7 linked regions of the Homo sapiens genome follow. The protein of the gene in region 3 purifies or fractionates together with the protein of the main gene of each other region. This does not show direct contact. Each region holds a gene or a part of one and is shown on either strand. Other genes may lie near its edges. The genes, in order: RNH1, PNP, KDM4C, UBA1, EPB41L3, PPP2R2A and EPB41.

Evidence for each region.
Region 1: the proteins of KDM4C (region 3) and RNH1 purify together in Homo sapiens (affinity purification with mass spectrometry, with the first as the bait; one study listed by BioGRID). This does not show direct contact.
Region 2: the proteins of KDM4C (region 3) and PNP purify together in Homo sapiens (affinity purification with mass spectrometry; one large-scale study listed by BioGRID and IntAct). This does not show direct contact.
Region 4: the proteins of KDM4C (region 3) and UBA1 purify together in Homo sapiens (affinity purification with mass spectrometry, with the first as the bait; one study listed by BioGRID). This does not show direct contact.
Region 5: the proteins of KDM4C (region 3) and EPB41L3 purify together in Homo sapiens (affinity purification with mass spectrometry; one large-scale study listed by BioGRID and IntAct). This does not show direct contact.
Region 6: the proteins of KDM4C (region 3) and PPP2R2A purify together in Homo sapiens (affinity purification with mass spectrometry, with the first as the bait; one study listed by BioGRID). This does not show direct contact.
Region 7: the proteins of KDM4C (region 3) and EPB41 purify together in Homo sapiens (affinity purification with mass spectrometry; one large-scale study listed by BioGRID and IntAct). This does not show direct contact.

The regions. Positions count from the first base shown.
Region 1 is NC_000011.10:494,015-497,242, reverse strand, and holds the end of RNH1 (ribonuclease inhibitor), read left to right. Parts: intron 1-2,189; coding exon 2,190-2,360; intron 2,361-2,464; coding exon 2,465-2,552; 3' UTR 2,553-2,728; downstream 2,729-3,228. UniProt on the Homo sapiens protein: Ribonuclease inhibitor which inhibits RNASE1, RNASE2 and angiogenin (ANG). May play a role in redox homeostasis. Required to inhibit the cytotoxic tRNA ribonuclease activity of ANG in the cytoplasm in absence of stress.
Region 2 is NC_000014.9:20,472,406-20,474,997, reverse strand, and holds part of PNP (purine nucleoside phosphorylase), read right to left. Parts: coding exon 2,521-2,592; intron 527-2,520; coding exon 423-526; intron 226-422; coding exon 50-225; intron 1-49. UniProt on the Homo sapiens protein: Catalyzes the phosphorolytic breakdown of the N-glycosidic bond in the beta-(deoxy)ribonucleoside molecules, with the formation of the corresponding free purine bases and pentose-1-phosphate.
Region 3 is NC_000009.12:6,984,973-6,988,472, forward strand, and holds part of KDM4C (lysine-specific demethylase 4C), read left to right. Parts: intron 1-1,352; exon of another isoform or gene 1,353-1,371; coding exon 1,372-1,694; intron 1,695-3,500.
Region 4 is NC_000023.11:47,196,829-47,200,328, reverse strand, and holds part of UBA1 (ubiquitin-like modifier-activating enzyme 1), read right to left. Parts: exon of another isoform or gene 3,339-3,500; coding exon of another isoform or gene 3,305-3,338; exon of another isoform or gene 2,127-3,304; coding exon of another isoform or gene 1,974-2,126; intron 1,939-1,973; exon of another isoform or gene 1,873-1,938; intron 1,527-1,872; coding exon 1,410-1,526; intron 1,282-1,409; coding exon 1,223-1,281; intron 1,121-1,222; coding exon 952-1,120; intron 850-951; coding exon 715-849; intron 1-714. UniProt on the Homo sapiens protein: Catalyzes the first step in ubiquitin conjugation to mark cellular proteins for degradation through the ubiquitin-proteasome system.
Region 5 is NC_000018.10:5,533,998-5,537,497, reverse strand, and holds part of EPB41L3 (band 4.1-like protein 3), read left to right. Parts: intron 1-3,500. UniProt on the Homo sapiens protein: Tumor suppressor that inhibits cell proliferation and promotes apoptosis. Modulates the activity of protein arginine N-methyltransferases, including PRMT3 and PRMT5.
Region 6 is NC_000008.11:26,357,508-26,361,007, reverse strand, and holds part of PPP2R2A (serine/threonine-protein phosphatase 2A 55 kDa regulatory subunit B alpha isoform), read right to left. Parts: intron 840-3,500; coding exon 727-839; intron 35-726; coding exon 1-34. UniProt on the Homo sapiens protein: Substrate-recognition subunit of protein phosphatase 2A (PP2A) that plays a key role in cell cycle by controlling mitosis entry and exit. Involved in chromosome clustering during late mitosis by mediating dephosphorylation of MKI67.
Region 7 is NC_000001.11:28,987,569-28,991,068, reverse strand, and holds part of EPB41 (protein 4.1), read right to left. Parts: coding exon 3,164-3,500; intron 1,714-3,163; exon of another isoform or gene 1,634-1,713; intron 1-1,633. UniProt on the Homo sapiens protein: Protein 4.1 is a major structural element of the erythrocyte membrane skeleton. It plays a key role in regulating membrane physical properties of mechanical stability and deformability by stabilizing spectrin-actin interaction. Recruits DLG1 to membranes.

The sequences.
Region 1 (3,228 bases), on a different chromosome or scaffold from region 3:
CCGTGTGTGAGCACATGGGCGAGAGTACGTGAGCACATGGGTGAGAGTGAGCACGAGTGTCCGTGTGTGAGCACATGGGTGAGAGTGAGCATGAGTGTCCATGTGAGTGTGAGCACATGGGCGAGTGAGCACGTGAGTGTGGCACATGGGCGAGAGTGAGCACGAGTGTCCATGTGAGTGTGAGCACATGGGCGAGAGTGAGGGTGCATGTTCATGTACTGGGAAAGGCGGGCTGGCGGCACCACTCTGGCTTAGTTCTCATTTTAACTCTGAAAGTCAGAGGTCATGTTTCATGAAGCCTGAGAGCTTCACGGAGCTCCAGCCTACCTGGCCACCCTGTGGTCCATCTTCCTGGAAGCCCCGCCCACCTTTCTCCCTTGCGGGAACCCCGCCTGTGTCAGGATGTTTTTCCAGATTTGTTTTCTTTGTTAAAGCACGTTCTTTTGCAGCTTTCTAAGAAAAGGTTTTGCAGGAGGTAATTTTTGGGGTCTTGTGCCCCTGTTCTGTCCTTGGATCATTTAGCCGGGTATAGCATGCACCATTATGCCCGGCTAATTTTATTTTGTTTGTTTTTTTGAGAGAGTCTTGCTCTGTCGCCCAGGCTGGAGTGCAGTGGTGCGATCTTGGCTCACTGCAAGCTCCGCCTCCCAAGTTCATGCCATTCTCCTGTCTCAACCTCCCGAGTAGCTGGGACCACAGGCGCCCGTCACCACACCAGGCTAATTTTTTGTACTTTTAGTAGAGATGGGGTTTCACCGTGTTAGCCAGTATGGTCTTGATATCCTGACCTCGTGATCCGCCTGCCTCGGCCTCCTAAATTGCTGGGATTACAGGCGTGAGCCACCACGCCTGGCCTAATTTTTGTATTTTTAGTAGAGATGGGGTTTCACCATGTTGGGCAGGCTGGTCTTGAACTATTGACCTCAAGTGATGAGCCTGCCTCAGCCTCCCAAAGTGCTGCGATTACAGGCGTGAGCCACTGTGACCTTGTGTGCACGATCTGCTTTTTCTCGTTGGCAGCTTTTCAAGCTCTCTTTGTTCACTGTGTTAGGGGTTCCATGTGCTTGGCCTTGATGGGGGTCTTGGTTCTTTGTGCTGGATACTTGGTTCTACTAAGAAAATATACCTTTGGTGATTTTTTTCTCTCTCCTTTCTTATGTTTCTTTTTTGGTGTGCCCATGAGCCTGTCCTGATGTCTTGTGGAGTGACCCTCTAATTATGTTCTCCAAATTTTCTTTTCGATGTTTTGTTTTATTTTTGGGAGATGTTCTCATTTACCAGCCAGTCTACTGAATTTCCACCCTCAGTGTTTTGTCTTTTGTTTGCTGTTTCCCGTGTGCCTCTCGCCAGGGGCTTTCCGTGGGTGGCTGGTCATCCTGGGCTGGGCACCAGGTGCAGAGTGAGGCCCGGGAGCCCTGGACAGTGAGCCCTGCAGGCCGAGTCATGGCTGCGTTTCTCGAGGGCTTCCTCCTGATGGGGGATTTTCAGTTCCCTGCCAGGGGACACCATCCTGGCTGCCAGGACCTTGTGGGTGTTCCAGATGTGGAGAGGAACCTTGGGTCCTGGTCACTGCAGACTTGTTCCCCCTGAGCCACTCACAGGGTGGGGGTCCTGCAGCTTCCCTGGCCCCCACCTTGGAGAGGTCCAGTGCAACTCCTTGGCCCTGCTGTCCGGCCTGTGGCGGCTCCACCCCGGGAAGTGGGTGTTGGGTCTTCTCTATCCCATCCTCTTTTGTCTGACCCGTTCTCTTGTCTCTCTCTGGAGCCTAAAGTCTGTTGTCCACTCTGTTCTTGTCTTGGTACCCTCCATACCCTCGTTTCCCCACAGCTGCTCCTCAGTCTCTGGCTGGCTTCTCCTTTGAAGCCCACGCAGCCAGACGGTGTCGAGGTGACAAGGGGGTGGGTGTGGCTCTCTGGGTGGACGACATCTCTCTCCTGTCCTTTCTCCTCCCTGCAGAAGATCTCAGGCGAGTGAGGCTGCTTGTGCCTCGCTTGTCTGTGCCTTCCTTGTCCGTGGTGGGGAACCTGCCCAGGGCCACAGGGACGGTGAGCCTTGGGGACGGCCCCACCTGAGGGTCCTGAGTTGCCGAGCACAGGTGTCCGTCGCGCCCCCCAGGCCCAGGCCTGCTCTGCCGGTCAGTGCGGTGCCAGGCACGCCCGGCACCCTGACCCCCGCCCTGCTTCACCCAGGTTGGCCGACTGCGATGTGAGTGACAGCAGCTGCAGCAGCCTCGCCGCAACCCTGTTGGCCAACCACAGCCTGCGTGAGCTGGACCTCAGCAACAACTGCCTGGGGGACGCCGGCATCCTGCAGCTGGTGGAGAGCGTCCGGCAGCCGGGCTGCCTCCTGGAGCAGCTGGTGTATGTGCACGCGCTGGGCGGGTGGTGCGGCCAGGGCTGCCCAGGGAGGAAGGCGGGGGTGGGGGAGGACACGGGCCCATGCCTCCCTTCTGGCCTGTGTGCAGCCTGTACGACATTTACTGGTCTGAGGAGATGGAGGACCGGCTGCAGGCCCTGGAGAAGGACAAGCCATCCCTGAGGGTCATCTCCTGAGGCTCTTCCTGCTGCTGCTCTCCCTGGACGACCGGCCTCGAGGCAACCCTGGGGCCCACCAGCCCCTGCCATGCTCTCACCCTGCATATCCTAGGTTTGAAGAGAAACGCTCAGATCCGCTTATTTCTGCCAGTATATTTTGGACACTTTATAATCATTAAAGCACTTTCTTGGCAGGAGAGGCTCTTGTCCTTCCTGGGGTCCTTGCGAGGCGCTGGCATTGGAGACGACACCACCCCACTTGGCTTCTCTCCCTGCCTAAGGGACCCCGCACCAGGGAAGCAGCCCAAGGCCCTGGCTGTGCTCAGCTGGGTCCCCTGAGCTGCACCCACCCACACTGGGGAGCACAGGGCAGGCCCTGCCCAGGGTGGAGGGATGCCCCTTGGCTCTGTTGCCCGTGCAGGGTGACGCCTGCTGGGAGCTGCCTGCAGGCCCAGCTGCTCCCGCAGCTTCCACCCCGGAGCCTCAGGAGCCCCCAGCACTGCCCTGACTGCCCCCCAGCCCAGCCCAGCCCAGCCCAGCCCAGCCCAGCCCAGCCCAGCGCGGCCCAGCGCGGCCCGGGTTCCTGCCCGGAGCCCAGTGCTCGCCCCAGCTCTGTGTGGGATGATGGGGCAGCCCATCTTGCCCACGGGTGGACAGCTGACCAAGGTGGGCCAGCCCGGGGTGCCCTGCCCTG
Region 2 (2,592 bases), on a different chromosome or scaffold from region 3:
GAAGTCTTTAAATCCTACCCACCTAAAAAAAACGGAGTAACATACATACCTTTCATCATTGGGCCCTCTGAGAGGGTTCTGACCACTGAAACCAGGTAGGTTGATATGGTCACGGATCAGCATGATATCTCCAACCTCAAACTTGGGGTTCAGCCCTCCTGCTGCATTGGTGACTACCAGGGTGTCCACACCCAGAAGGTGGAAAACCCTCACTGGGAATGTCACCTTCGAAGCAAACAATCCGAAAAAAATTTACAAAATTTCATTAATTCAGCTACACTGAAATGCATGACATACATCGTGAAAGAAAAGGAAGGAGAGGACCAAAAATCCACCTAGCCCAGATAGCTAGGTAGTGAAAGAGGCTAGATAGTTCTCTCCTGCCTCTTCCAGATCCAACCGGACCTATCCCTCTGACTTACCTTCCAGAGTGGGTACCCTTCATACATGTGGAACCTGCCCTGCATCATCACACAGGCCCTGCCATTCAGGAACCCAAACACCAGTCGGCCAGCATGACCTGGCACTGTATACAAAACAGAAAGAGAAATGAATGGGATTATATTTTCATGCAACACATATCCATTAAGCACCTACTGTGAGTTACTCGCTCTGCTCAAAATGTTAGGTTGTAATTAAGTAAAAGACTCATTATTATCTCTGCTTTCAGAAAGTTTAAGTCTGGTGAGAGAGCCAGGCATTACTAATAATTATACAAATACAACCCAAGATTAGAGATATGGGGTGCGTTCAGCATGTTCAGCATGAACACACAAAGAAGGAAGGGCTTTTTAAAGAAATTTCAAGATAATACAAGCCATACTGCCAGAGAGTAAAAAGTGAGCAAAAAAAGTAGATACTCAGAAATGGAAGATTAAATACTACATGTTCTCACTTATAAGTGGGAACCAAATGTGTACATATGGACCTACAGAGTGAAATAATAGACACTGGGGACTCGGAAAGGTGAGAAAGTGGGATGGGGATGAGGGATGAGAAATTACCTAATAAGTACAATGTTCACTGCTCAGGTGATGGTTACACTAAAGCACAGACGTCACCACCACGCAGTATATCCATATAACAAAACTGCATTGTACCCCTGTAAATCTATAAAAATTAAAATTAAAAATAGGCCAGGTGCGGTGTCTCACACCTGTAGTCCCAGCACTTCGGGAGCCCAAGACAGGCGGATCAACAGGCCAGGAGTTCAAGACCACCCTGGCCAACATGGTGAAACCTCATCTCTACTAAAAATACAAAAATTAGCCAGGTGTGGTGGCACATGCCTGTAATCCCAGCTACTCGGGAGGCTGAGGTGGGAGAATCTCTTGAACTTGGGAGGTGGAGGTTGCAGTGAGCCGAGATCACAACACTACACTCGAGCCTGGGTGACAGAGCGAGACTCTGTTTCAAAATAAAGTGAGTACAGTGAATGCAGTAATTATAGACCTCTTCAAATTTTTCAAAGTTCTCAAAACATGTATTCTTATCTATTGCCCTAACTTAATTACCTGCCTCCTCAGTCCAGCAAGCAAGCTCATAGTATACTTACTCTGGCTTCTTAAAGAAGAGGCTACTGAACAAGGGGGAAAGAATTTGAACGCATGCAAGTGTCTCTTTCCTTATGACCCACGGAACAGTCCTATGGGAACACATGCCCACGGAGGGGTGCGTGGGAGTGCAAAGATAACTCCCCACAGACATAACAGCCATTATTACCATTTCTTTTATCTGGCAGTCACTTCTAATAGACGGCCAACCTATCCCTTAGGGAATGGGAGAGGGACTAGAACCAAGAGGAAGAGCTGAGAAATTCTCAAAGATAGAGGAGCTTATGCAAAAAAACAAAACAAAAACAGTAATAAAGTTGACAAAGGAAACCCAAGTGGAGTATAAAAAATAAACATGTTGATAAGCTTAAAAAAACTAACCCACTTATCATTTAATGCAGTGCCCTTCTCACTGGGGGTAGGAGTGGCCAGTGGAGCCAGCGTCACTACTATCTCCCTTAGAGAAGTATGCCCTTCACACACCCTCTGTTAATATTTCCCTCACCTTCTCCCTCTGCTCTTCCAGTCTTGTGTTAAAGAGTTTAAAAAAATAGCTATTAAAGGTCTTTTCCTGCTGACAGGTCTTAAAAAAAAATTCTTAACTCTCCAGGGAAAAGAAGATAGAAATCTTAAAAATTAATAAATAAACCAACAGAAGTTAGTTATTTGAGAAATTACGTAAACCAAATAAACAACCCTTGCCCTTTACTTGGCCCCTGTCACCTGGCCCTCTTCTGAGTCTTAGCCTCAGTCCACTGACACACACATGTCCTGTCTCTTATGGGATGTCTGCTAGAGGCATCTCCTAAAGTCACTCTGACTCATGGTGGGCTTTTCTCCTCTCTTACAACATTTGTCTTCAGTGAAATGCTAGGTCAAGGAGTAGAAACATTGGCCTCCTTGGTTGTGTTCCACAGAATTCCAAGAACATCCCTCAGTCCCATTCCCCACTTTCCCTTGCCAGTACCTGTACTTCGGGGAAAGTTGGGGATTTCACCGTAGTCAAAGATCTGGGCCTGAGTTAATTTATCAGTCAGAC
Region 3 (3,500 bases):
ATATTTGTTGGAGTTTTTGTATTGTAATAAGCTAATTCCTGTGTTCCTCTCATACTTCTCATCCTGTAAATCCTTCCTCATGGGATTCCCCCCTCCGCCAGAATCCGACTCCCTCTGCTGCTTCCTCCTCACTCATGGCACCATAGCTGTTGCCTGGATGACTGCAGCAATTGCTTCCTTCTTATTCAGGAATGTCAGCTGTAGTCACCCCCGCTAGTCAGTTCTCCAGGTGGCCATTAGAGTGATCCTTTAAAAGAAAAAAAGCTTAGGTCTTGTGACTACCTTCTTCTTAGTATTATTCCACCTATAATAAAAGAAAAAGTCTTCACATAGTCCTAAACTGGTCCTCAGCTGCTACTCCAGCCTCATTGCCTTTGCTCTTGAAATAGCTGTGTGGATAGAGTTTAAACCACAGAACTTTTAAAAAATGAGTTCATGTTTTAGTGGAGAGCTAGGCAAATAACCACATAATTACAATCCAATGTGGTAAGTAGCATTATAGAGATTGCATAGGATGTTGCTGGTTTACCAAGGAAGGACTTCAAACACACAAGAGCTGGATAGCCAAGGTTTCTTGGCAAAGGTGATATCTGAATTGAGTTTTGATGAATGGATATAAGATAGCAAGGCAGAGAAGGTAGGGAAGGGAATTACAACAAATGCAGAATAGAGAGTTAGGCAATACATATGGATATTTCACTATAGTCCCTTTTTTTAAAATTTTTAAATTTTTTTTGAGACAGAGTCTCTCTCTGTCGCCCAGGCTGGAGTGCCGTGGCACAATCATAGCTCCCTGCAACCTCTGCCTCTCAGGTTCAAGCGATTTTTTTGCCTCAGCCTCCTGAGTATCTGGGACTAAAGGTGTGCACCACTATGCCTAACTAATTTTTATATTTTTAGTAGAGCTGGGGTTTCGCCGTGTTGGCCAGGCTGATCTTGAACTTCTGGCCTCAAGTGATCCACCTGCCTTGGCCTCCCAAAGTGCTGGGATTACACACGTGAGCCACCGTGCCCGGCTCCTCATCATGCTTTCTCTTACACTGTGTTTAATTAGCCAGTTTATGAATTGCTGGATGGTTTTGCCTAAGGGCCCTGAATTTCATTAGTTCTGTCACTACATGGTTCTTTGCACATTGATCTCCAGATTTTGAGCCCTGGCATAATACTTGAGTAGAAGAACTGGGTTGTTCAGTATCAGAGCTAGTATGTGATGGGTACAAATGAGGTTTGTTTTGTGTGTGTGCATGTATGTGCATGCGCATGCGTGTGTATGTGTGTGTAAGATACAGAATCATTTGGGAATAGTTTACCAATTCTACTTAGTAGTAATACAGTGCATGATTTATTAACAGTCTTCTGTTTTATCCTCAGGAAACAGCTGCTTAAGTACATCTGTAACAGAAGACATAAAAACTGAGGATGACAAAGCTTATGCATATAGAAGTGTACCTTCTATATCCAGTGAGGCTGATGATTCCATTCCATTGTCTAGTGGCTATGAGAAGCCCGAGAAATCAGACCCATCCGAGCTTTCATGGCCAAAGTCACCTGAGTCATGCTCATCAGTGGCAGAGAGTAATGGTGTGTTAACAGAGGGAGAAGAGAGTGATGTGGAGAGCCATGGGAATGGCCTTGAACCTGGGGAAATCCCAGCGGTCCCCAGTGGAGAGAGAAATAGCTTCAAAGTCCCCAGTGTATGTGGCAATATCCATTTTTTACCATATTCATTATATGGTGAGAGCACATTTTGAAAACAACATGCTGTGCACTGAAATCCTCCTTTAGGGCACAGATAAATAACATTTTACATTTATGGGTCTTAATCATATTCATTCAATAACTGGGAGGTAAGCCTCCTGTGAGCTGTGGCTCACATAGTGATAATTTAGCACATGGAGCTTATGGCCACGTGTCGATGCTTGATTTTCTTTTTTTTGTTAAAAAATTAAACTCTTTACTTTGAGGTAATTGTAGACTCGTATGCAGTTGTGGGAAATAGTGCACAGTGATTCTTTGTACCCTTTACTCAGTTTCTCCCAATGCTACCATCTTAGAAAACTATAGTACAAAGTCACAATCATATCGACATTGATACAGTAAAGATTACAGAATTGTTCTGTCACCTGCAGAAGAATTCATCTGCTGGGCACTGATCACTTTCTGCCAATAGTTAATACCTCCTGGTCCCAGCCTTCCCACAGCTTCTATTTCAGTGTCAGGACTCACGTGGTCATGCTTTCTTCTTACTCTTTCCTCATGGACCCTGAATCTCAGGACCAGGGTGACCTTTCTTGTCCTGCCCCCTCCTCGAAAGAGGCCCTTTGCCTCTGAGAAAAGACTCCTCTATATTATTTAGCTTCCCATTGTGACTTTTTGGAAAATTGTACAATATTGTCCTTGTACAGTATTAATATTCCATATTCAGTAGAAACTGTCCATGTAGCCATAAGAGTGGATCAGGGGAGCTAGGACTGTCTGTAGCGATTGTCAGAATTCAGTACTTTTTTTTGATGTATCCAGCCTGATTAGGGAATTCAGGTGGATCAGGAAGGAGTAATTGTTTGAGCTGATAGGTTGCGCTGGCTGCAGAACAGACACTGCTCCTGCTGGTTTCAACTCAAAATAGATCCTTGTGTCCCTGAGTAGGAGCAAGGGAGGTTGTATAAGGACAGCAGCTTTGAATACCTTGCGTCTTATCAGTCTTAAAATGTTAATTAAAATATACTTTTCTGATTTGACCCAATAGTGTTTATCTTTTTATGTAGAATTGTATATCTCATTGAATTATAAACACATCAAAAATATGAAAGATAAAAAAAATATGGTCTGGTTTCTTTGAAAAGGTGCCTAAGAGTAGTTTGAAAATAGCATTCACATACTAATAAGCAAAATTTACAACTTTGGCCAAATGTGGTGGCTTATTTCTGTAATCCCTGCACTTTGAGAGACTGTGGTGGGAGGATCCCCTCGAGCCCAGAGGTTCGAGATGAGCCTGGACAACATGGTCACACCCTGTGTCTACAAAAAAAAAATAAAAAAAAATTTAGTGGTGTGTGCCTGTGGTCCTAGCTACTAGGGAGGCTAAGGTAGGAGGATCACTCGAGCTCAGGAATTCAAGGCTGCAGTGAGCTGTGATCCCACCACTGCACTCTAGCCTGGGTGACAGAGTGAGAGACCCTGTCTCTTAAAAAAAAAAAAAAAAAAAAAAAAAAGGAAAAAAAATTTGCAACTTAATTTCATGAATGGCTTAAATGTAGCCAAGCAGATATTCATTCTTTGGACAGGTGACTGAGTCAAATGCCTGCTTTAGTTATTTTTAGCGACCTTCTTTAAAGTAGAATGGAGCTGAAAGTAATTCTCAGATTTCTTTGCTCTCAAGGAAGGTGATTATAGATCTAGTGCTGTTTATCTTCATCTTTATCATTTCCCCAAGCAAAGACTGACAGTAGAGAAACCAACATTGCTATTGAAGGCTGAGAGGCTTGGCTTGCCTGTAAGAA
Region 4 (3,500 bases), on a different chromosome or scaffold from region 3:
GTCCTTATATGCCAGCTGCAATTCCACGTGTTTAACCCTCACAAAAAGTCCATGAAGTCAGTGCTGCTACCACGCACTGACTACAAACAGGAAAACAAAGGTACAGGAGATGAAACAACCTGCTTGAAGTCACACTACCAAGGCTGGAGGCCTGCAGCAAGGCAGTATGGCTCTACAGTCTGTGCCCACAACCACTATGCTGTACTGTCTGTACACATCTTCCCCACTTGAAAAGGCGGGGCCAGGCCGGGTGCGGTGGCTCACACCTGTAATCCCAGCACTTTGGGAGGCGGAGGCGGGCGGATCACAAGGTCAGGAGATCGAGACCACCCTGGCTAACACAGTGAAACCCCGTCTCTACTAAAAATACAAAAAAAAATTAGCCGGGCGTGGTGGCAGGCGCCTGTAGTCCCAGCTACTCGGGAGGCTGAGGCAGGAGAATGGCGTGAACCCAGGAGGTGTAGCTTGCAGTGAGCCGAGATCGCGCCACTGCACTCTAGCTTGGGCGACAGAGCAAGACTCCGTCTCAAAAAAAAAAAAAGAAGAAAAGAAAAGGCAGGGCCAGGGGCTAACTGCTGCCTGCATACTCTAGTCCCCCAGCACAAAACCTGACATTCAGGCCGACCCATTAAATCAATATTGAACACTACTGAATAAACCAGAGATGGGCTCTGAGAAAACTGGGCAGAAGGCTGGGTAGTACCCCCAAGATACCTGGAAACCACTAAGGAAGTCCTCAACGAGGGGTCCAGTGTAGGCAGTGACAGGCACATAGCTGTTGAGCTCAGCGAGGCGGGGCTGTGATACCTCGGCCCGGTTTTTACCGATGTCCTCCTCCCGCAGGTAGAACTGTAAGGGTGTGCAGTAGGGAAAAAGATGAAATGGCTGTGGCACCGGGAACAGTGGTGCCTCGGGAAGGGGGAAAGGGGGAAGGGTGCTAGGAAGAGGTACCTGGGAGGAAAGATCAGCCCACTGGGCAGTGCCCTGGTCATGTAGGGTAACAGCCTTGACCCCACCAAGGATGATGTTCTTAGCGATCTCCACGCCCAGGCCCCGCAGGCCTGATACCAGGACACTGGATGTCTGGAGCCGCTTCATTGCCTCATGGCCCAACACATACCTGCCAGGTTAGGGGGTACTCTAGGTCAGGGCCTGCCCCACCCAACCTTATCCTCTCAATGTCCCATTCCACACCCCTCAGCCCGGCCTTGGCCCCACTTACAGCTGCCGGGAGTAAAGGCCCTCGTCTATGTCTGCTTCACTGCCGTTCTTGGCCATTCCCTAGGAATAGAGGAAAAGAACAAGTTTAGGGAGACACACAGGAGTGGAGCATGGATAGACAGACAGTGATACAAAAGACTTTCCCACCCACCACCTCGTCTGCCAGTCTCCACGGAGAGGACACTCACGTTGGTTGGCACCGAGGGCACTTCGGACAACACGGACTGGGCAGGGGAGCAGTTAGAACCCGGCTTTGGATCAGGCCCGGACACGCGACGTTTCTTGGACAGCGGCGAGCTGGACATCTGGAGGAAAAAAAGGTCAGAGGTGACCCTGGAGCACATGGGTACCGTTTTTCTGTTTGTTAGTAGCAACTGTGGGGGAAGGGAAGACTTAAGTATTAGTACCCCCATTTTACAGCAAAGAGGGGACAGGCACAGAAAGGTGAGGACTTGCCCAGGGTAACACAGCTGTCAGACCTAAGATCTGAACCCAGGTGGTCTGATTTGCAAATCCACACTGCTGACCACTAAGCCATTTGCTTCTTCCCAGCCCAGCATAATGAGGGAGAGACTCCAATCCTGGAGTGAAAGGAATGACAAGAATGTACTTGTGTCGAGGTCAGGGGAAGGATGTGGATTCAGGACAGACCTGGTTTCAAATCTTGAGCCTGCCACGCACTAACAGTAATAATTAACCGCCACAGGCCTCAGTTTTCTCACCTGTGAAACAGGGGTGATAATACCACTTACCTTCCCCACGGGGTTATCGAGATGATAAATAACACAGAGCATAGAACCTGGCACAGAGTAGGTAGGCAGTAACAAGCAGCCATTCTCCTCTCCCTTAATCCCAGGGATGGCGGCGGGAGCGGGGAGTGCAGGAGGGAAGTGAGGCTTGGACATCCATCAGGGTGGCATGATGGCAGGAGCGGTAACTTGCTGAGAACCCAGTCCCCAGAGGGGCTCAAGTTTTATAAAGCCCAACCCTGCCCCCAGCTTTGGGAGGGGAAAACCGACACAGACCAATAAAAGAGGTTGCAAAAAGATAGAAAACAAACACATCCCAAGCCTCATCTGCATGCGGAGTCCCTTAAACAGGTTAACCACAATGATAAATGAGTATTAGATTGATCAGGAGTCCTCCTTGTGCCAGATGCCATAGTAAGCACTTCTCTAAACCTCGTCTCACTCTGTCCTCAGGGTACTCCTGTGGGGTTTGGACTGCTATCAATAATACCCCCAACTTTAAAGTGATGGAAAAAAATTCACTCAGGGACGTTCGGTGACCAAGGTTCCCACACACTGAGCTGGGACCAGACCAGGATCTGCTGACTCTGAAGCCCAGGCTGCTTCCTCGTGTTATCACGTTTCATCCCCTCCATGACCCTGACCCAGCAAGGCAGAGTTTAGTGTCCTTGCCGGACAAATGAGAAGTAACTTGCCCAGGGTCACCTGCTAGGTCCCAGAGACAGAACAATAAAGCCTGCTGTGGAAGTGAAATCTGGTGGTGGGGGTGACTGGGTCCACATGCTGGAGATGGGAGGACCCAGCGTCACTTCCCCTCACCCCAAGTGCTCCTCTAGGCACTGAGTCTTCTGTTCACACAAGTCCTCCCACACTGAGACTTTTATGACACTAAGTATCCCAATGTACCTAAGATTCCATCTTGGCACTTGTCACTAGCACCAACCACAATGACAAGAGCTCCCTACTATCTACCAAGAGCATACTGTGTGTCAATCAAAGAGGAAAGGGCTTTGTCTAATCTTAACAATCCCCATGACCCAGATAACCCTATGCCCAAATCACAAATGGGAAAAGAAAGGCTTAGAGAACCCCATTCACTCGCCCAGAGGCATGCAGCTGGTGGGGGACTGTTTGCCAAATGCCCCTGGGCTCAGGGCCCAGTCCACAGGGCTAAGGAATGGGAGATGAGGGGAGGCAGCAGGCTGGCTGGAGCCCCTGAGATAGCCAGGTGAATTGCTTAGAATGCTAAGAGCCAACCTGGGTAGCAAGAGGCTTGGTGAGTTAGTAGAGACAAAGGTGAACCATATTTTCCATTTACTGACTCTCTGACTGACCTGGGGTAGAGATCTCATTTCCTCTGAGCCTCATTTTCTCCAAAAGCTGGGACAAATGAAACTGTCTTCAAGGGGCTGCTGGCAGGGTTAAAGAAGCCAAGGTCTGTGGTCAGAACTCACTGACCTGAGGATGTGAGTTCCTCCCTGGGCACGTGTAGTGGCCTCTATTACTTAGTTATCTCCTTGCCTTGTCATT
Region 5 (3,500 bases), on a different chromosome or scaffold from region 3:
GGAGACAGATGGTCTTTAGTTAATGGAGTTATCCAAAATTTTGCAGAAATTGAATGTGATGTTTTTTTCTCTCAATGATTGATATTTTGGCAATTCATTCCATCTTTTTGTGGGAGTATTTAACTGAGGATTAAATACTACTTTTGGATTGTTTAAGGTAGAAAATGAGATATACGAAATATGGGAAGATTTTCCTTATCCTTTCAATGAATGTATCTCAGTTATTTGAGATATTAAAAATAATACATTCTCACTTTAAAATATAGTCTAACAATACAGAAAAACCAAAAAAGGCAATGTCATTATCTACCTTTCTGAATGTATTACGTATCAGAGTGGAATAGGACACACCTGGGTTGGGCTCTCGGCCTTGCTATTTAATAACTATGTGGCATGGTTCTTTTAACTTCCTAGAGCCTGTTTGCTCGTTTATAAAATGGGCATAATGCTTATATCTGAAGGATATGAGGATTAAATGATGTAATACATGCAAACACTGAGCACAGTATCTGGTATATCACAAGTGCTTCATAAATAGCAGTAGCATCATTTTGTACATATACAGACTCATATGTAGATTACATAATATTTTACATGAATAGACTTCTGTCTTAAATACTTCTATGTAACCATTTTTTGTTTGTTTGTTTCGTTTGTTTGTTTTTTGAGAACAGAGTCTCACTCTGTTGCCCAGGCTGGAGTGCAGTGGCACGATATCAGCTCACAGCAACCTCTGCCTCCCGGGTTCAAGTGAGCCTCCCAGGTTCAAGCGAGTCTCCTGCCTCAGCCTCCCAAGTAGCTGGGATTATAGGCAACCGCCACCCTGCCCAGCTATTTTTTTTTTTTTTGAATTTTTAGTAGACATGGGGTTTTACCACGTTGGCAAGGCTGGTCTCGAATGATCCTGACCTCAAATGATCTGCCCGCCTTGGCCTCCCAAAGTGCTGGGATTACAGGTGTGAGCCACCGCACCAGGCCAAATTTTTTTTTTTTTTAAATGTAACAGTATGTCTCGGAGGAGCTTTTTCATGCATGCAAATCTATACCCACATCATTATTTTTAATGGTAAATAAATATTTTCTTTTGGTCTTGTGCAATATTGATAAAGGATCATTACCTTAATGATGGTGTTGATGTGAAGCCTTGTTGTCCAGCCCCTCTGCCTCCTTCTGCTTGCTGCCTACACTTCATGACTCTCTTCTAATATACACATCAGGAGGCTTGTGGTAAAACAGGATATTTAAAAAAATTAAAATCTCTGATGATTATTATGTATATCTCAATGTTGTGTGTGAATATTGAGTTCTAACAAACTAAAACAAGCAAATTTTCACCATAGATTTCCTGACTTTTTTAAATTTAGATTTTAATGTCATCTCTTTATAGAGGGGCGAGCTCATCCAGCAAAGCCTAACCTGAGTTCCTGGGTGCCCATCATTCTCCCATGTGCCTCTTGGCATGCCTCGAGGGACAGCAGATGCAGCAGTCTGGACCTGAACTAGACTCTCCAGAATCAAAATATCCAGGGTCTGGGATAGTTTAGTAGGTGTACGGGGTCACTGGGCTCCCAGAGATGGAAAATATTAAGCTTCCTTTGATCTCTCTCTGAGTTCCCAACCCTTCCTTCGTCCTCAACAACAGAATGGTAACAAATGTCATATTCCATTCACAGATTTTATGCCACCTCGTCAGGGATGTGGGCTGCTCTGTTATGTTATTCACAATCCCATGATTTTGACTGATCTTGGATTTACTTGGAATCCAGTCTTCATTCACCAATTTGGGGAGAATAGCTTTATGATCCTGAAGGTGGTGCTAGCTGGAATGGTGCACCCAGGCTTCTGTGAGATGATGCCATCGGGGCATCTAGAGGTCTCAGGCTGGCCCGGACAGTTGCATATTTCTACGTAATTTTTTCCTAGAGTTACTAACATCCCAGAGATATAGGGAGTTTTGGGTAGTTTCATTACAGAGAATTATTCTTGATGAATTTTGGTGTTTTATACCATTTTGTGCTACTCAGTGACAACTTTTATTAACTTTAGAAGGAATATGCTTACTGGCTAAGTATAAGACTTGGAAAATAGAGATTGACTAGGTTGTCTGCTCAAGAAGTCTGGAAAACTTTTCCTCTGAATTCTTGAAATGAGAGCAGTAATTCATTGGGGGGAGTTATATTGTAGAACAGGGGTCCCCAACCTTTTTAGCACCAAGGACCTCCATTTTGCTTACCTCCTGCTGTGTGGCCCTGTCCTTGGCACAGAGGTTGGGGTTTCATGGAAGACAGTTTTTCCATGGACGGGGGTTGTGGGGGATGGTTTCAGGAAGAAACTGTTCCACTTCACATCATCAGATTCTCAGAAGGAATGCACAACCTAGATCCCTCACGTGTGCGGTTCACATTCTCACATTCTCACTCAAGAATGTGAATCAAATGCCACTTCTGATCTGACAGGAGGCGGAGATCAGGTGGTAATGCTGACTCACCCACCGCTCACCACCACTGTCCTTGGCCCAGTGGTGGGGAATCCTTGTTGCAGAATAAAGAAAATACAAAGAGCTAGAGAAGATACAGATGGAAACATCTGCTAACCTTGAGCTAGGTAACTGTGGGAGGAGTACTCTATTTCTCTAGGCAAGGTTCCCCAGAGTGAACAGATGACGATGCTGCCTACCTCCAGGTTGAAATGAGATCTGTGTTTGAAGACATCTAGAACCAGTCTAATGAGAGTATACACATAGTACATGTTTTCTCATTTCAGTAGTATATGCTGTTGTCCTCTTTGCTTGTTTTTAGGGACATGTCTTAGTAATTGTAAGATCCAAAGATGACCCTCAGGATGAGTGTAGAATTTTGTGACATTCCACCACAAAACCCGTAATCCAAAAGATGGCCCTCTATGAGAATGCAGAATTTTTTGAGTATGAAACTCCAGATAACAGTAGAGGTTTGCAAAGAATGAGACACAGTGGTTATACAACAGAATTACCTGATGAGTTTATTAAAAAGGAATTTTTGGGGACCAATCCACGGATTATCATCTAATAGATCTGCAGTTGGATCCAGACCTCCTTATGTCCCGACAAGTACTTTGGTGAAATCTGATCCAGGTGGTCCCAGGACCACATTTTGAGACACACTGTCTTAACGACTTTTGTCTTAATGACTTTCCAGCTTCTTCACTATTGTCAAATGAGCGTTTAACCTGGAAAGAAGATATAATATAAATAAATAGTACTAAGGTTGAAGAAAATGTTTAGCATAGAGCAAAGAAACCTGGCCTTGGACTCAGAATGCTTGGGTTTCTTTTTTTCTTTCTTTTTTCTTTTTTTTGAGACGGAGTCTCGCTCTGTCACCCAGGCTGGAGTGCAGTGGCGAGATCTCGGCTCACTGCCAGCTCCGCCTCCCAGGTTCATGCCATTCTCCTGCCTCAGACTCCCAAGGAGCTGGGACTACAGGCGCCCGCCACCACGCCTTGCTAATTTTTTGTATTTTAGT
Region 6 (3,500 bases), on a different chromosome or scaffold from region 3:
CAACCATTAGATCCATAGGCCTAAAGACTGGCACCTGTCAATAAGACACATGAAAAACAGAAATTACAAAAGGCTCAGTTTCAAATAGCAATTAAGATTCAGAAAACTTCATTATTTCAGTTTTTGAGAACATAAAATAGAACAATATTACATAGATTTAGTTTTAAAAAGCAACTGATGTTGATCCTTTCGAGTGCTGAAGAAAAAATGAACAATGTGGATAATATATCTTCTTTTACTGGTTGCAATACTATTAGAATTTGCAGTTCTTAGTTTCAATATTTTGCTTGAAAGACATGCCAAGCTAATAAATGTTTATGGTTCAGATTAAAGAGGCTAAAAAGAAAATTAACCCATAACATCTAATTCTTGGTATTTTTTAGCTACAACTAGAAGATTTGATCTGTATCTACTTTTTTGATTTCCAAAGAAAATTTATCTTGAAACTTGACCTTGTGATAGCTAACATGACAAACCAGAGATGAAGTCTGATGGCGTGAAATACTGTCTTGTGCTTGAGTCCTGCTTCTGTCCCTGGCCAAAGTGAGACCTCTATGTAGGTCAGTTTCTATGTTTAAATGAGTTACTCAATGTCCTACCTGATTACAGAATTACTGGGAAAGGGGAGATAGACTGTAATTATTCCTATTCAAGCTCTGCTCAGGATTTGGGCTATATAATATGAATACAAGCACTATCTGTGACATTTTTTTCTTATGTACTTACTCGTAGTGTAGTAACTGTAGTAGGATCTCTATACCTTCCATCCTCCTCTTTCAAGTTATACCCTTCTGGTCTTTTGTCCCTTTCACTGATTTTCCATAATTTTATTGTTTTATCTGGGAAGAAAATAAAGAAAAGTCCTTAAAATACTGAAGAAGAAAAACATTTTAAGGCATTTAAAATATGCTATTTCACATTTCACGTAAAAGGATTCCACGAAAAAAAAAAAAACCCTAATCTGAACTTACTAAAAAATTTCCTATTATCAGCTGAATAACATACACACATGGAAATAAAGTGCAAAGATTGGTGGCACTCATAAATTCCATGTGATAGTCAAATCAAGTCACAGACAGGTCTCTATCCCTGTCCCTTAAAAGTAATTAAAGCTAGAGGGAAAAACTTGATATGCATGTGTGGTGTATGCAAACACATATATGTCTGTACCTACATGTAAACATATACATGTTCAGTACTGAATTTTAAAAAATTTAAAGGGAACAATGAAGTTGATTAAGACTGCCTATTATGTAGAATCAAAATAGTAAAGCTGCTCTCCCTTGCTCCCACTTCTTAGCAGAGCCTATCAAAGATTCCACAGAGGCCTCCATAGGACTGGATGCCTCCTTTTTAAAACCTTTCCCCTTCTTGTATCAGGGTTCACAAGTAGGAAACAGGGCCTGAAGAAAACTGATTAAAAGCATACATCCCCAAGTCCTTCAAGAAGAAACCAAATTCCTAGGTATCAAGGATATATAAAATGGCATCTGTTTAAAAACAAACTTTTGTTTTACAATTAAGTTTAGATTTACAGAAAGTTACAAGAATTGCAGTGTTCCATATATCCTTTACCCAGTTTCTTCTGTCAACATCTTACGCAACCATGGTACGTGTGTCAAAACTAAGACGTCGACTTTGTATATTACTATTAACTACAGACTGCATTTGGAGATTTAACCAGGTTTTCCACTAACATTCCTTTTCTGCTCCAGAATTCAAACAACACTGCATTTAGTCATCAAGTTTCCTTAGTCTCTCTGCCTTTAAGTTTCTCAGGCTCTCCTTATTTTTCTTGATCTTGACAGTTTTGAGTAGTGGTGGTGAGGTACTTTGTAGAATATCCCTCAACTGGATTTGCTTGCTCTTTCCTCATGATCAGACTGGGACCATGGGTTTTTAGGAACAGAACAGAGAGATGAAGTGACTTCTCACAGCATTGTTCAAAGGGATACATGGTATCAACATGACTTACAGCTGGTGGCGTTAACTTGGGTCATTTGGTTAAGACAATGTTTGCCAGGCTTCTCCACTATACAATGACTCTTTCACCCTTGCCATATTCTGTTCTTTGGAAGTGAGTCACTAAATCCAGCCTGTACTTAAAGGGAGAAATAAGTTATACTCCCTGTAGGGAAGAGTATGTATCCACGTCTTATTTAGAATTCTCCTGCAGGAAGCATCCCTGCTCTCCATGTATCCATTCAATTGTTTATTTGTATCACTATAGGCTCATGCATGTTGATTTAAAACTGTTACAATTGTATAACAGTTTTTCTTATAGAAAAGCATACATTCCTAACGATCTTTCATAAGCAAAATGGTGTAACAAAATTGTTTATAACAGTATATAAAGCCATTTTATAAAAACAGAAACAACTCAGAGAGATGCCAGTGACTCTAGCCTGGCAGTCTCTGTATCGTACAGAAGAATGATAGTTGCCCCTAAGGATGCCCTTCCCAATGATGAAGTGTAAACAGAGAAAAACTGCTAACTTTAATCATCTGTAATCTATTATTTCTTCTAAGCCCTATGTGACCTTGCTTATAATTTTCTTGTAGTTCAGTCATACAGATTTTCTATGTGTTATTTAGTTTATATATGTATATGATTTATAGATAGATATGAGCCTAGCCTAAATCTGTATTCTGAGAAGTATTTGTTCTAAATACTTGCAAAGTATTTGTGATGAGGATGACAACACCCCCGCCCCCTGGTCCAGTTGTCTTGTGGCCTGTTTAAATCCATCCTCCTTATTAAAGATCCAAATAAAGAAACCACAATGTATTTATGAAACTTTCAGATGAGATAAAATTAGTTTGTGGTGCCTAATAGTGTTTACAGGAAGAAAGCTCTTTAAAAAATGTTTTTTCCTTAACACAAACACAGGACACATATGAATTAGGATACATTTTTCAGTAAGGTGGGGACAAGGCAGGCAGGAAATAAATCAGTATGTTAATAAATATGACATAAATTTTTAAAAAATCAGAATCCTTATGTTCTACAGCAGTGATATTTTATTACCTGGAGTTTTTGGCCCATAAGACAAAGTATGTGAGAATAATCAAACTCCATAAAACTGTATGTGAGATTATGTAAAAACACAGTTTTCAGTGGAGACGTTATTAGATTCTCAAGATCTGTTCCTTCCAAAACGACCACACTGTGGTGTTCCCCTGAATTATCAACACTAATAACTAAAGCATTGGAGAAACTGCAGAAGAACAGAGTTCCTCTCACCACAAGCAGAAGGTATGAGAGGTATGAGCAGGGAAAACCACGCTGCCGTTTCCTTTGTGGGAATGCAGCTTTATGTAAGACCCTAAAAAACTTATCAAGAAGTTGTTAAGACACACCCTATTTATGAGTGAACTTTACATTATTCATATATGTAACACTCATGGTTGACAGGTCAGTTTCATGTTTTCTGCAATGTAGAGGAATTAATGAGAATTCAGAGGAGCAAAAGAAGATTAAAGAGAAAGAGAATTAAAAT
Region 7 (3,500 bases), on a different chromosome or scaffold from region 3:
ACGACTCTGATCCACAAGGTTTTGACTATAAATATTAGTTTCCAAAAGGCCTAAAATAGTTTGTTCTTTTAAATAATATCTCCTTGAAATTTTACTAACAATATCGTTTCTTTTTCTCCACATGAAGACAAATAACCTACGGACAATTTATTTCAATTCGGAATTAAATCTTAATGAATGAGATTTTAGTTAAATCTAAAATTAACTGTCCATCATCTGTGTCAACTTGAGTACGAATCTATGAACTTTAGACAATGCAGACAAGTTCTGATTCAAATGTTAACTAAAACAAGATATGGATTTTCCCCTATATAAAGCTGAAGGAGAAAAAAGCAGTTAAAAACCCCTTGAGGCCAGGCACAGTGGTCATGCCTGTAATCCCAGCATTCTGGAAGGCTGAGGCAGAAGGATTGCTCGAGTTCAGGAGTTCAAGACCAGCCTAGGCAACAAAGCAAGACCGTCTCTACCAAAAAATTTAAAAATTAGCTGGGCATGTGGCATGCACCTGTAGTCCCAACTACTCAGGAGACTGAGATGGGAGGATAGCTTGAGCCCGGGAGGTTGAGGCTGTAGTGAGCCATGATCACACCACTGTATTCTAGTCTGGGTGACAGAGAGAGACCCTGTCAAGAAAGAAAGAAAAAAAGAAAATAAATAAAGAGGGGGAAGGAGGGAGGGAGGGGAAAGGAGGGAGGCAGAGGAAGAGAGGAAGGGAGGGAGGGAGGGAGGGAGGGAAGGAAGGAAGGAAGGAAGGAAGGAAGGAAGGAAGGAAATTTGAAAAACTCTTGAAAGTACCAGGCTTCCTGAAAGATAATGTAATTTTTTTTTTTTTTTTTTGAGATGGAATCTCGCACTGTCACCCAGGCTGGAGTGCAGTGGCGTGATCTCGGCTCTCAGCAAATTTTCCTGCCTCGCCTTCCGAGTAGCTGGGACTACAGGTGCCCGCCACCACGCCCAGCTAATTTTTTGTATTTTTTGTAGAGACAGGGTTTCACCATGTTGGCCAGGATGGTCTCAAACTCCTGACCTTGTGATTCGCCTGCCTCAGCCTCCTAGAGTGCTAGGATTACAGGTGTGAGCCACTGCGCCCGGCCGATAATGTAATTTAATTCTTTTGGTATTCCTAAAATAAAATGTTATTAAGATATGAATGGTTTCTTTGCCTTTACTGTTTGTGTTTATTTACTAGCTAACATTCATTGAGTATTTATTAAATGCCAGGCAATGTTTTAAGAGCTTTTACCGGTTTCACTCTTTTAATCCTTTCAATCCCAAATGAGGTGGATATTATTATCCCCATTGTACAGAGGAGGAAACTGATAAAGTGAAAAGTGTCACTTTTCTTCGATTTGAACCCTCTAGTCGGATTCTATAGCTTGCATCTTAACTATTACAGAACATAGTAAATCTTGTTTTCAACCTTGTTTCACTAACAGCAAGTGTGCAATTATAATTTTATCCTAAATTTTACCCTCAGCACTTTGAATATACAAGTAATAGTTCTAGAAATACATGTAATATTCTAATAAGACTCTAATAAAACTATGGAGTCCAAATCTCAGACCTATAATAGAAACATGTAGGACTTTTACTTTTTTCCCCCCAACACTGTCAGAGTTCTAGAAGGACTTACACTTTTAACGATGCAGATAATATTCACATGCTTCAGAAATAAGAAGACTCTGAAAATAATTCTTAATTGTAATGGTGAGGCTGAAAATAAATGACATTCTCAGAAAATAGTCTGAGTTACAGTACTAATGTTTTCCCATTTTTTGGGACAAATAAACTCACAACTCGTGTTTAGTTTAACAACACTATGTCACAATTAAGGCCCCAGACTAATATACATTACACAGGTGATAGAAAGAGCTAGACTTCCTCATCTGTATCTTACACTCTGTGGCAATATGCTCTAGTTAAAGAAGATGATCAAAATAAGGTAGACATGACTTGAATCTATCACATACCTTCAAAGGGCTTGAATTCATCACACAGCTTTTAGGAAGATTTACGTAAAAGAACCACATCTGCTGATAACCGTCCTGTTCCTAATAATTCCACAAAAATGAACTCTAAACCATCTCATCTTTCTTTTCCTCTCTCATGAGAAATCTTCAATTTGTTCCATTATTATAATAAAATGATATATGGGCTGAACACATTGATTTGATACTTTTTTTTTCTCTACTATTCTTTGATTTATAAACAGTAAATGGACAGGCATGGTGGTACACACCTGTAATGCCAGCTGCTCAGGAGGCTGAGGTGGGAGGATCACTTGAGCCCAGGAGTTTGAGATTAGCCTGGGCAAAATAGCAAGACCCTTTAATACATATAAAGTGTAAGTAACTGTTTAAAAAGTAAGTTTCCAATGACTACATTAATTTTTTTAGAGTAGAAACTATAAGCCGGGCATGGTGGCTCACGTCTGTAGTCCCAGCACTTTGGGAGGCTGAGGTGGACAGATTACCTGAGGTCAAGAGTTTGTGACCAGCCTGGCCAACACAGCAAAACGCTGTCTCTACTAAAAATACAAAAATTAGCTGGGCATGGTGGCCAGCGCCTGTAATCCCAGCTACTCGGGAGGCTGAGGCAGAAGAATAGCTTGAACCCAGGACGGGGAGGTTGCAGTGGGCCGAGATCACACCACTGCACTCCAGCCTGGGTGACAGAGCAAGACTCAGTCTCAAAAAAAAAATAGAGTAGAAACTATAAAGCTTTATGATGCTACTTATCACTATCAATGCCTAAGTCAACTAGCTAGTAAGAAATAAAACCAAGTACTTTTTTTATCCCCCCGTTGTTGAGACGGAATCTCATCCTTGTTGCCTAGGCTGGAATGCAGTGGCACGATCTCAGCTCACTGCAGCCTCCGCCTCCCGAGTTCAACTTCTCCTGTCTCAGCCTCCTGAGTAGCTGGGATTACAGGCACCCGCCATCAGGCCCGGCTAATTTTTGTACTTTTAGTAGAGACAGGGTTTGGCCATGTTGGCCAGGCTGGTCTCGAACTCCTGACCTCAGTTGATCCGCCTGCCTCGGCCTCCCAAAGTGGTGGAATTACAGGCATGAGCCACCGCGCCCAGCCCAAATACTCTTAAATGAAAAATAAAGTGTATAACCTGCCTTCCTTTGCCCACCTCCCATATCCACACATCCTTACCTGTGTTTCTGCACTGCTTAATGAATGAAGATCCAAAGATGGGTCTGTTTTGAGTTCCGGTTCAGGAGCTGCAATTGGGGCCTTTAAAATGATCTCTTCATCAAGACTGGTTCCAAATTCTATCTCTTTCTGACCTCCTTCACCTTTTTCTTTATCTGACTCTACTTCTTTGCCTTCTTCCTCGGACACCTGAGATTTGGGCCTTTTGAGAAACGAGGAGAATAGTCGTGAAAGTCCTCTGCTTTCTGATGTCCGCTCCTTGTTCTTGGTCAAGTCTTCATGTGTAGGAGTGTCTCCATTAGAAGCTTTCAGCTTCTGTTCACACCAATTATCTCCT